Linked DNA regions of Homo sapiens. The protein of the gene in region 3 interacts with the protein of the main gene of each other region in a pairwise test. Each region holds a gene or a part of one and is shown on either strand. Other genes may lie near its edges.

Region 1 (3,652 bases), about 29 Mb from region 3:
TGCTCACACACTGGAATACAAGCCCTGTGTCTTTGTTCATTGCTGTATCCACAGACATGACTCATTGTAGATACTGACATTGTTAAATGAATGAATTTCTCAAAAGCGGTGTGAATAATCATAATATGAAAGTAAATAAGGAAATCAGCTCTCTAAGGCAATGCTATTCTTTTTATACTCTCAGGATAGAAGATCTTGGCGTTGTGGTAGATTGCCTTCCTGTGCTCACCAATTGGTAAAAACAATATTTTTCAGAAAAAAAATAAGATTAAAGGAGGTCAAATTATGGCCCATCCATATTTTTATAACTTGGTATTTATTTTAGTTTACAGGAAGAAAAACAATATATCTCACTTGGCTGCTGTGTTGACTTGTTGCCTCTAGTAAAGTCACTACTTAAAAGCAAATTTGAAGAGTAAGTGCTAATCTGAATCTTGATTCATTTTTCTTTTTCAGCATCCTTGATTTTGTGCTTTGTGAGTACATAGTAGATTGGGCTCCATGAGACATGCAAGGTTTCTGTTTTCAAGAAGCTAATAGTACAATTAGGAAAAGAATATGAAATGACTAAAGGACAATTATAAAAGCATCTCTAAACAAATTACATGAAATATACTTTTGTGTAATAGATCATGAAGGTAACAATTTTTTAAAAGGGAAGGGACCAATGTGTGTGTGTGTTTTTTGGGAGGGAAAGTATCATCTTTTATAAGAAGGGTTCTTAGATGAAAACACTTGAATTTTGTAACAAAATGTCATTTCAGATATGTTATAGTTGGTTTAAACTGGCTTCAAGCAGTCATTAAAAGGTGGTGGTCAGAACTATCATCCAAAACAGAAATTATAAATGATGGGTGAGTATACCTTTAAAGATAAACTCATGCTGAAATTTTCTTCAGGAAAGCAGCTTGATTAAACTAGGTAATAATTTTATCCCATTATCATCAGTGTATGGTATTTATTCTTTTTATATTCAGAGAGATACTAACTTAAGAGACTGTTCATTTGTGAAAACCACACCTGGAAATTGAATTCCAGAGCCTACTAACCTCCTGTATCTCTTCTTCTGGCACAACCCTACCCTTCATTTTAGAAGAAAAACACAATAGTGGTTTAATTCTCATATTCATTATGAGTAAGGGAGGAAAAAGAGATGCCCACAGTGTAATAAGGAATGGAGGCACCCTGCGGGGTCCTTTACCTAGACATTAACCTGAGAGTCCGGTGTTGATGTTTACAGTTCTAAAAACTGTATTATTACTGCCTTGATGTGAAAATTCGTGGGTATTCTACCAGAGTATAGCCAGATTATCATGAAACCACAGAAAAATATCTCCCAACAGTTTCCTTAAAGTCCATAATTTTGGGCCAGGCACGGTGGCTGATGCCTGTCTGTAATCCCAGCACTTTGGGAGGCCAAGAAGGGCAAATCACTTGAGCTCACAAGTTTGAGACAGCCTGGGCAACATGATGACATCCCGTCTCTACAAAAAATACAAAAATTAGCCAGGCATGGTGGTGTGCGCCTGTAGTCCCAGCTACTCAGGCTGAGGCAGGAGGATCGCTTGAGCCCAGGAGGTGGAGGTTGCAGTAAGCCGAGATGGCACCACTGCACTCCAGCCTGGGCAATAGAGCCAGCCCTTGTCTCAAAAAAAAAAAAAAAAAAAGCCACAATTTATTTTGTAGGCTCTCAAAATTTTCTACTTCACACCAAGGAATGTCCAAATGTTCCAAACGCCTGGTCATTTTCTTACCTGCTTTGACAACTAAATAACCTTTAATTTTCTTTTTTTTTTTAATTGAAATCAAGTAAGAAATTTTATTAATTTTGGAATTGAAAAAACATCCTTTGTTGTTTCCAAGAATTAATTAAATAGGAGGCATTTGGCGGTATTATGTGGATAAACCTTTAATTTTCATGACTGACATGTATTATTCTAAAAGTTATTTGATTTTTTTTTAATTTCTCTCCACGTTCCCAAATGTTTTATTTCAAATAGCATCATTTTCTCCTGAAAAATACCTGAAAAATTTTAGAACAGTTTTTATTATGCATATTTATGATGAAAGTTTGTATCTTAATGTATTTGCTTTCTCATTTTTCTTCCTTTTTTTTCTTTTAGAAATATTCAAATTTTAAAACAACAATTAAGTGGATTATGGGAACAGGAAAACCATCTTACTTTGGTTCCAGGATATACTGGTAATATAGCTAAGGTAATCTATATTTAAGCTTATAAATTAAACATTAAAAATTAGAAATAATATTTTACATTTATAAATTAATTTTCAAGTCTCTAGGCAAAATAATATGGTACTGTTCTAATGTCTAAAGTCAATTTCATATTTTCAAATGCTTCAGGTCCTCTGCGTGTAACTGTGACCTTGGCAGCAAGCACAGGAATTGGCCATTGAACATGTTTCATGTACAGCCCCTGAAATGCTATGCTAGAGGATATTTACAGAGGGTTTTAATCAGAGAAAAGTATTTGAAAAAATTTTGAGAATCCAATAAGGACAGCATCAGAAAACAAGACGAGGAACTCAGGAAACAAGGGATAAGAAACATAATTAAATGGTTTTGGAGATTAAGTTTTACTTTTGCTAATGTTATGCTTTTTGAGAAGGTAAACTATTTAAATCACAGTGAATTTGACTTTGGTCTTTATTGATTTGTCTCGTAAAGGAAAAAGTAAAAATTGCTAGTTTGAATTTTAATATTTAAACTCCAGAAAACATTGGTAGTTAGGCCGGGCACAGTGGCTTACGCCTGTAATCCTAGCACTTAGGGAGGCCAAGGCAAGCAGATCACCTGAGGTCAGGAGTTCGAGACCAGCCTGGTTGGTGAAACCCCGTTTCTACTAAAAATACAAAAAATTACCTGGGTGTGATGGCACGTGCCTGTAATCCCAGCTACTCGGGAGGCTGAGGCAGGAGAATCACTTGAACCTGGGAGGCGGAGGTTGTGGTGAGCTGAGATCGTGCCATTGCACTCCAGTTTGGGCAACAGAGTGAAACTCCGTCTCAAAAAAAAAAAAGAAAGAAAAAACATTAGTAGTTAAAAATTAATTGAAGAAAAAATTGTCATTAAGAAATACTTTTACTTTATTACCGGGCATACTGCTATCATAAATGGGCATTAGCCAGGAATATAAAAAGCATTCTTTGGTTTTAAAAATATATATATATATATATTTCTAAATAAGAGGATTTATGTCATGGACTTAGTTATAACATTTTTCTCGGAGACAAAACAACTTCTTAGAATTCAGGGGGAAAAAAATACAATGCTAAGGGAAACAGAGGCTTGGGCAAACCTAGGTAGCCTTGAGGGATAATCTGGCTTCTACTCCAAGATAAGTTCAGCTCTTACAGGAGACAGAAGCTTTCAGGGAATTAATGTAGCTGAGGGAAGAAAAGCAAATGGGAGTGATACCAACAGTGACCAACCAGAAGCTTATCTCCTGTCAAAGTGACAGCCACAGAGGAGCTCTGGCCATTGCTATGGAAGACCATGGCCCCTCTCCCAAAAAAAAAAATTTCTCAGATACCTTCAAAAAAAAGAAGCAAAATGATATATCAACCAAGTTTGTTACCACTGTGTGGGATTTTACTCTATAGAATTCTTTTTTTTTTTTTTTTTTTTTTGAGA
Region 2 (3,652 bases), on a different chromosome or scaffold from region 3:
ACTTTGGGAGGCCGAGGTGGGCAGATCACTTGAAGTCAGGAGTTCAAGACCAGTCTGGCCAACATGATGAAATCCCGTCTCCACTAAAAATACAAAAATTAGCCTGGTGTGGTGGCGCACCCCTGTAGTCCCAGCTACTTGGGAGGCTGAGGCAGGAGAATCGCTTGAACCTGGAAGGCAGTGGCAGAAGGAAGATCATGCCACTGCACTCCAGCCTGGGCAACACAGCAAGCCTGTCTCAAAAAAATGAAGGGGATGGGGTGGGTGTGGTGGCTCATGCCTGTAATCCTAATACTTTGGGAGGCCAAGGTGGGAAGATTGTTTGATGCCAGGAGTTCAAGACCAGCCTGGTCAACATAGGGAGACCCCATCTCTAAAAAAGAAGGGGGTGGTCAACGATGTTAAGTGCTGCTGAGAGGATGAGTCTTGGCTCTGCTGATTCCTGACTTGAGTTTCCAGTCAGAAATACACAGAGGTCCTTAGCACTGTCTACTCTAGAGCCTTCTTAGATCTGTGAGATGGAAGTATAAATTACTGTGAGCAGTACTTCTGATGTCACCATGGGCAAAAGAGTCCATATGTGAAGGTCACATGCTTATTTACATCCTTTTCTGTTTTGGGCTATTCTGCAAAATCAAGTCCTGTCTTACCCTCTCTTCATGCCACCCCCAACCAGGCTCTGGCGTTACGACGTATTCTGTACACCCTGGCACAGTCCAATCTGAACTGGTTCGGCACTCATCTTTCATGAGATGGATGTGGTGGCTTTTCTCCTTTTTCATCAAGACTCCTCAGCAGGGAGCCCAGACCAGCCTGCACTGTGCCTTAACAGAAGGTCTTGAGATTCTAAGTGGGAATCATTTCAGGTATGAATGTTATCTCTTTTTGCAGATGAGATTTATTGCTCAAAGGAGATAATTTGGGTTTGTCTGGGTATACCCTTTTTTAAAAGTACATTGTCTCATATAGCTTTTGTCTTTTAACTCTAGAGTTTTTACCTTTTAGTAGGGGAATTTGACTCTCTTTTGTAATAACTGCTACATTTGATTTTATGCCATCTTTTATACTGATAATTATGCATTCTGTTTGTTTTCTTCCTGTCTTTGTTATGTCAGTCCAGTTTTCTTTATTCTTTTTTGGATTCCTAATTCTATTGTTTTACATTAAAAAGAATTTAAAAAGAATTTGAGGCCAGGCGCAGTGGCTTACGCCTGTAATCTCAGCACTTTGGGAGGCCAAGGTGGGCAGATCACCTAAGGTCAGGTGAAACTCCGCCTCAAAAAAAAAAAAAAAGAATTTGAATCTGCATTTCTCTATTGTCCTCAGGATTGAAATACTATGGACTCCCCTCTCAAATAAGCGAAGACATTTAAAATGATTTAAATGTAGAGAATTTTGAATATAACACAGGGTTAGATAAAATAGTGCACTGAGCCTGCATATAATGGAGCCTCAGCTACCATTAACCCATGGCCAATTCTGCCCTATCCCCATTCTCTACCCCTTTCCATATTTTTCTTCTCCCATATTATTTTGAAGCAAATCCCAGGCATCACATAAGATCAAAATTTTAACATGTTTTTACCTCTACTTCAGGTTATTGTTGAAATGACCTGAAATTTTAAGGAAGTAGCTGAAAATAGCATTAAGATTGGAAAGAAAGGCAGACAGATTATGAGAGGCCTATAATGCCAGCCTTGTGGAGGAGCCCCAGAGTTGTTTCAGTAGACAGACAAAATCTGGTCTGTGCTTTAGCAACTTTGTTTCATGAATGAATAATTAACCTAGTGAGAGAGAGAGTTTCAGAAAGTTGTAATGAAAGGAATGGTAATGTGAAAGAGGCCCTGAAGCAGCAGAATTTTTATCACTGGATGATTAATTAAATGAGGGGATGAGGGAGGCTTTGCTAACCTGAATTTCAAGCCTGAATGAGGTTGATGATGACATTAACTAAGACAGCAGACATGGAAAAGTAATGTGTGGAACTTAGGGTTCTTGGATTCCAAAGCAGTTGAAAGGGACTTTGTCTAGCTTAAGCAAGAAGGAAATTTATTAAAATATTAGTAGGGAGAGGAGGGACCCCTAGGTTGAAAGGGAAGACTGAAGAGCCAGGCTAAGAAGTGTCAGAGTGGCAGTCAGCCAGCCGGGGCATTGCTGCTAGAGTGAGCGAATGCCAGCTATCTTTAGTGTTTAGGTTGTATTGCTTATCATCCATTCTCTAGGGAGGAAGCATTGGATCTCCTTCCTCCTATCCCTTCATTTTTACTCTTTTGATTAGAGGCAAACAGGGACTTTATTAATGCTCTCTTCAAACTATATTGAGGGGAAAAGGTGATTCTGCAGAAGGAAATCAGGTTGCTATTGCCGAAACAAAGTAGAATGTTCAGCCAAAGAGTAACAGTTGTCCACTGTGTAACAAACCTGGCTCTGTACATGTTGCATGTGTGTTATCTATAAGGCATGCAAGTAGAAATGTATAGCAGATAGTTGGAAATGTGGTTCTGAAGTATAAGAAGATAGATTTATATAGTATACTGGATTGATTTTCCAAGAGTGACTGGATTCTTCTTCCCTAGAGATTTTAAGAAAAAAAAAAATAACCCTTTATCTTGGTTTTGACTGAGTGGTTTAAAGAAAGTCAGCTCTAAATCCATAACTTACTATTGGATTGACTTTTGAAGAGCCTTTCCTGTGCTATGGATTCTTAATTCATTTTGAAGATCCAACAGCAGCCGTGTAGACCACCATCAAGAAATGAACATAAAAGTCTTTTGATTGAAGCCTTAAGATTTTTGCACTGGCTCTTCTTTCTGCCTGCAACCACTAGTCTGCTTTATGTCTCTAAGAATTTGCCTTTACTGGACATTTCATATAAATGGAATCATATGGTATGTGGCCTTTTGTGACTGACTTCTTTTACTCAGCTTAATGTTATCAAGGGTCATCCATGCTAAAGCATGTGTCAGTACTTCATTTCTTTTTATTGCTGGATAACATTTCATTGTATAGATTTGCCACATCTTATTTATTCATTCATCAGGTGATGGGCATTTGGGTTTGCACTTTTTAGCTATTTGAATAATACTGCTGTGACCATTTGTGTAGAAATTTTTGTGTGGACATTTCTCTTGGGTACATGGAAGTGGAATTTCTGGGTTATATGGTAACTGTGTTTAACTGCTGAGGAACTGCCAAACTTTTCCAAAATGACTGCCCCATTTTACATTCCCACCAGCAGTCTATGAGTATTCTAATTTCTTCACATCCTCAGCAACACTTGTTATTGTCTCTCCTTTTGAGTTTAGCCATCCTAGTGAGTATGAAGGAATATCTTGTTTTTATTTTCATTTCATTTTCCTACTAATGATGTTGAACATTCTTTCATGCGCTTTTTGGTTCATTTGTTTCTTTGTTGGGGAAATGTCTATCAAGTCCTTTGCCCATTTTTAAGTTGGATAATTGTCTTTTTATTGTTGAGTTACAAGAGTTCTTAATAGTCTAGATGCGAGTTCCTTGTCAGATATATAATTTGCAAATATTCTCTCATTCTGTGGGTTGTCTTTTAACTTTCTTAATGGTATCTTTTGAAATGTAAAACTTAAATTTTGATGAAGTCCAGTTTATCTATTTTTTGTCACTTGTGCAGTCATAT
Region 3 (3,752 bases):
CCAGCTGGTACTGGGCAGGGAGGTTCCCCTGGAGGGAATGCCCAGAGAAAATGGTATTTACCAAGATCCATATCAGAGGTCCTGGGCCCTGCCTGCTTCCTGTGCTGGGTGCTAGAACTTTCCCTGAGTAACCATCTCCTGGGTAGCCCAAGACTGCCTGGCTCTCCACACCAGGTTTGGGCAGGGCAAGCTCTGCAGAATTCACTGAAATGCCCCCCAAAGCCACGGCAACTAAGAATTCCAAGGGTTTCTCCAGAAGACACTTGACTTCACATTATTATGCTCCCTCCTGGGCCCCTGACATTGTTCTTGAACATTCTCCAATGCTGGAAGTTTAAATGCACCAGGCAGAGAGCAGATCACACTTTGACCCCATTACTCAGCTTAACTCCTCTCCACCTCCAACTTTGGGTTCATGCTGACATTCTACACCTCAGTGATTTTTGCTTTGACCTGTCCTCTAAGGCAGTTAAAAACCCAAGGAAACTGCATGAGAATTTACAGAATAAAAGCTGTGCTCTACCCAGGGGTAGGCAGTCTCCTTCCTCAGAGTGAGGCGAAAGTGGAGTTTTGACTACAAACTTCCCCAGTCCCAACTTGGAGAATTGGGAGAGGAGATAAGGAGGAGGGAAAGGGAGAGGGAAGAGGAAGAGCAGGGAAAGTAGGGAAGAAAGGAAGGGGAGGGAGGGAAGAGAACAGGGAAGGGCAGGAAAAGAGAGAGAAGGGAGGCAGAGCTGCCCCAGAGTGAGAGGAGCAACCAGCTATAGGAAAGAGGGCCAACTAATGGCTGTTTCTCCCTTTGGTCTTGGAGCAACTTAGGACTAAAGAGATTTCCAGGGAAACTTTGGTCTCAGTGCAGCTTTCGTAAAAGGAAACATGTAAAGTTTGTGGTTTTAAAACTTGATTTTCACTTTTACATCGCTCCTTTCTCCCAACTTCTGTTACATCGCTTCTGTTTCTCCCTGACCAGATGAGGGAGATAATATCAAGCACATCATGCCAGCTAGTTGACTGGAATTTAATTAAGAGTTATCCACAGCCTGGCTCCCCTGCCCTTCCCCATGGGCACTGTGACCTCCAAGAGAGGAGGCTCAGAGCTTTTATGCTGCTGAGCAGGACACATTTCCCACCACCACTGCCTCGCCAGGAAGAATCTAGTTTCAGCCAGTAAAATCACTTTCGGTCCAAAATCACTTTCTTATTCCAAAAGATTAATGAACCAGCCTTGGCTGTACACGTGTTAGCTCACTGGCCCGGCGTGAGCCCACAGTTCAGGTCCCCTCTGCCACCTCCTCCTGTCACTCCACGGAGCCTCCATTCAGTCCCTCAGCCTCCAGCCTTTTGGGATTTAGTGTTCTAATTACAATCAGAAATATGCTGTGTGTGTGTGTGTGTGTGTGTGTGTGGTTTGTGTGCGTGCGCGCGTGCGTGTGTGTGTGTACGTGCACACACACGTACATTCAGCATAGTAGAGCCCTCCTGGAGAAAAACAATGATTAAGAATGGGATGCATCATCCCTTTGACTTGTAGGTAAGACTTAATGGTAAAGATCCTCTCCTCCAAAGAAAAGCGCCTACCACTGTCTGCGGGTTCTGCACAGGGGCACAGCAAACCTTTCTCTGTGCTTACCCCAATCAGAATGCCACAGTCATGTCTCTACTTTCTAAACGTGGATCAGGGGAACGCTGTTTTAAATCTTGGCTTTGCATCTCCTCCCTGGTTAGCAAGTTCCCAAGCCACATCTTCAGAGCTGGCGGTGCCCGGGAGTACACGCAAACATTTTAACACCAAATCTGCGCCAAGCGCCACTAGAAAGCAACGTGCTTCCCGACCCAACCTCAGCAAAGGAAAACGGAGCATCCTTTCTTGAGAATCTACTATTTGGTACTACACCTTCCCTGCTCCCCGCAGCAATGATTTTACTTTATCATTGAAGAGCCTTCAGCCCAGGGGCGGCTGAGCGCTCAGGAGTGTTAGGAAAGAAGCAGGCGGAAACTTTACCGTTCACTGGGGCCGGGCTGGAAGGCTGTTCCTTTAAGATCACCAGCAGGAGCACGGCCGCCGCGTGCAGGCTGCGCCGGGGCATCTTCGCGGGCTCCTGCGGGGCGGGCGCGGGCTGTGCCGGGGGCTCCCGGTGGCCGCTCGCTCTCCAGCTGCACACCGGGACCGCGTGCGCGCAGCCTGGGTGCCGTGGCGAGTACGTCCGCCCTTCGCTCTCCTGGCTTCCCCGGGCAGCTTTTATGGAGCAACTCAACGCCAAACACTTGATGTCATCGTGCGGGGAGGGGGTGGGGGAGGAGAACGCCCTGCCCACCGGAGGGCTGGCGCCCCAGATCCTAGGTGAGTTGTAGCCTTGACTTCAGCAGCACTCTGCGGGTCCCCGGCGCTCCTCTGGGCCAGGGCTGACCCAGGAACACAGTTCTCCGAGGAGCTGCTGGCAGGCGTGGGTGAGATCCGCCTGTCTCACATCCAGAAGGGTGCGTCTAGGGATTCCTTCAGTGGCATGCCCTTGGTCTGTCACTGGTCCTGTAACAGCCCAACGAGTTCACCTTGCCCGCTGCTTAGACAGAGCCCATTTATCAAGACAGGGGAGTTGCAATGGAGAAAGTAATTCACGCAGAGCTTGCCGTGCCGGAGACCGGAGGTTTTCGTTCCTTTGTTTGTTTGTTTGAGACGGAGTCTCGCTCTGTTGCCCAGGCCGGAGTGCAATAGCGTGATCTCGGCTCACTGCAACCTCCGCCTCCCGGGTTCAAGCGATTCTCCTGCCTCAGCCTCCCGAGTAGCTGGGATTACAGGCACATGCCACCATGCCCAGATAATTTTTGTATTTTTAGTAGAGGCGGGGTTTCGCCAGTTTAAGGCTGGCCTTAAACTCCCGACCTCAGATAATTCACCTGCCTTGGCTTCCCAAAGTGCTGGGATTACAGGCGCCCACCACCACACCCGGCTAATTTTTCTAATTTTAGTAGAGACGGGGTTTCACCATGTTGGCCAGGCTGGTCTGGAACTCCTGACCTCAAATGATCCACCTACCTTGGCCTCCTAAAGTACTGGGATTCCAGTACTCAAATCAGTCTCCCCAAGCATTCCGGGAGTTGTTTGTTTGTTTGTTTGTTCAGACGGAGTCTCCCTCTGTCGCCCAGGCTGAAATGCAGTGGCATGGTCTTGGCTCACTGCAACCTCTGCCTCACGGGTTCAAGCGATTCTCCTGCCTCAGCCTCCTGGGTAGCTGGGATTACAGGCACGCGCCGCCACACCCAGCTAATTTTTGTATTTTTAGTAGAGACGGGGTTTCACCATGTTGGCCAGGCTGGTCTTGATCTCTTGATCTCGTGATCCACCTAAAGTGCTGGGATTACAGGCGTTGAACCACTGCACCCTGCCTCTGGGAGTTTTTAAAGATAATTTGGCAGATAGGGGCTTGGGACTTGGGGAGTGCTGATTGGTCAGGTTGCAGATGGGATCACAGGGGGGTTGAAGTAACGTTTTCTTGCAGTCTTCTGTTCCTGGGTGGGATCGCAGAACTGGTTGAGCCAGATCACACACGGTCTGAGTGGTGTCAGCTGATCCATCCAGTGCAGGGTCTGCAAAATAGGATGTTAGATTTTACAATAGCGATGTTATCCCCAGCAGCAACTTGGGAAGGTTCAGACTCTTGCAGCCTGACGCCGCAGGACCCCTAAACCATAATTTCTAATGTTGTAACTAATAGATTAATCGTACAAAGGCAGACTGGCACCCAGGCAAGAAG

Evidence for each region.
Region 1: the proteins of CA12 (region 3) and KATNBL1 interact in a two-hybrid assay, tested with the Homo sapiens proteins (one large-scale study listed by IntAct).
Region 2: the proteins of CA12 (region 3) and RDH11 interact in a two-hybrid assay, tested with the Homo sapiens proteins (one large-scale study listed by BioGRID and IntAct).

What each region holds. Positions count from the first base shown.
Region 1 is NC_000015.10:34,143,963-34,147,614, reverse strand, and holds part of KATNBL1 (KATNB1-like protein 1), read left to right. Parts: intron 1-184; coding exon 185-235; intron 236-325; coding exon 326-415; intron 416-764; coding exon 765-854; intron 855-2,123; coding exon 2,124-2,217; intron 2,218-2,362; coding exon of another isoform or gene 2,363-2,377; exon of another isoform or gene 2,378-2,646; intron 2,647-3,652.
Region 2 is NC_000014.9:67,682,229-67,685,880, reverse strand, and holds part of RDH11 (retinol dehydrogenase 11), read left to right. Parts: intron 1-676; coding exon 677-866; intron 867-3,652. UniProt on the Homo sapiens protein: Retinol dehydrogenase with a clear preference for NADP. Displays high activity towards 9-cis, 11-cis and all-trans-retinol, and to a lesser extent on 13-cis-retinol.
Region 3 is NC_000015.10:63,379,634-63,383,385, forward strand, and holds the start of CA12 (carbonic anhydrase 12 isoform 1 precursor), read right to left. Parts: upstream 2,214-3,752; 5' UTR 2,088-2,213; coding exon 2,003-2,087; intron 1-2,002. UniProt on the Homo sapiens protein: Reversible hydration of carbon dioxide.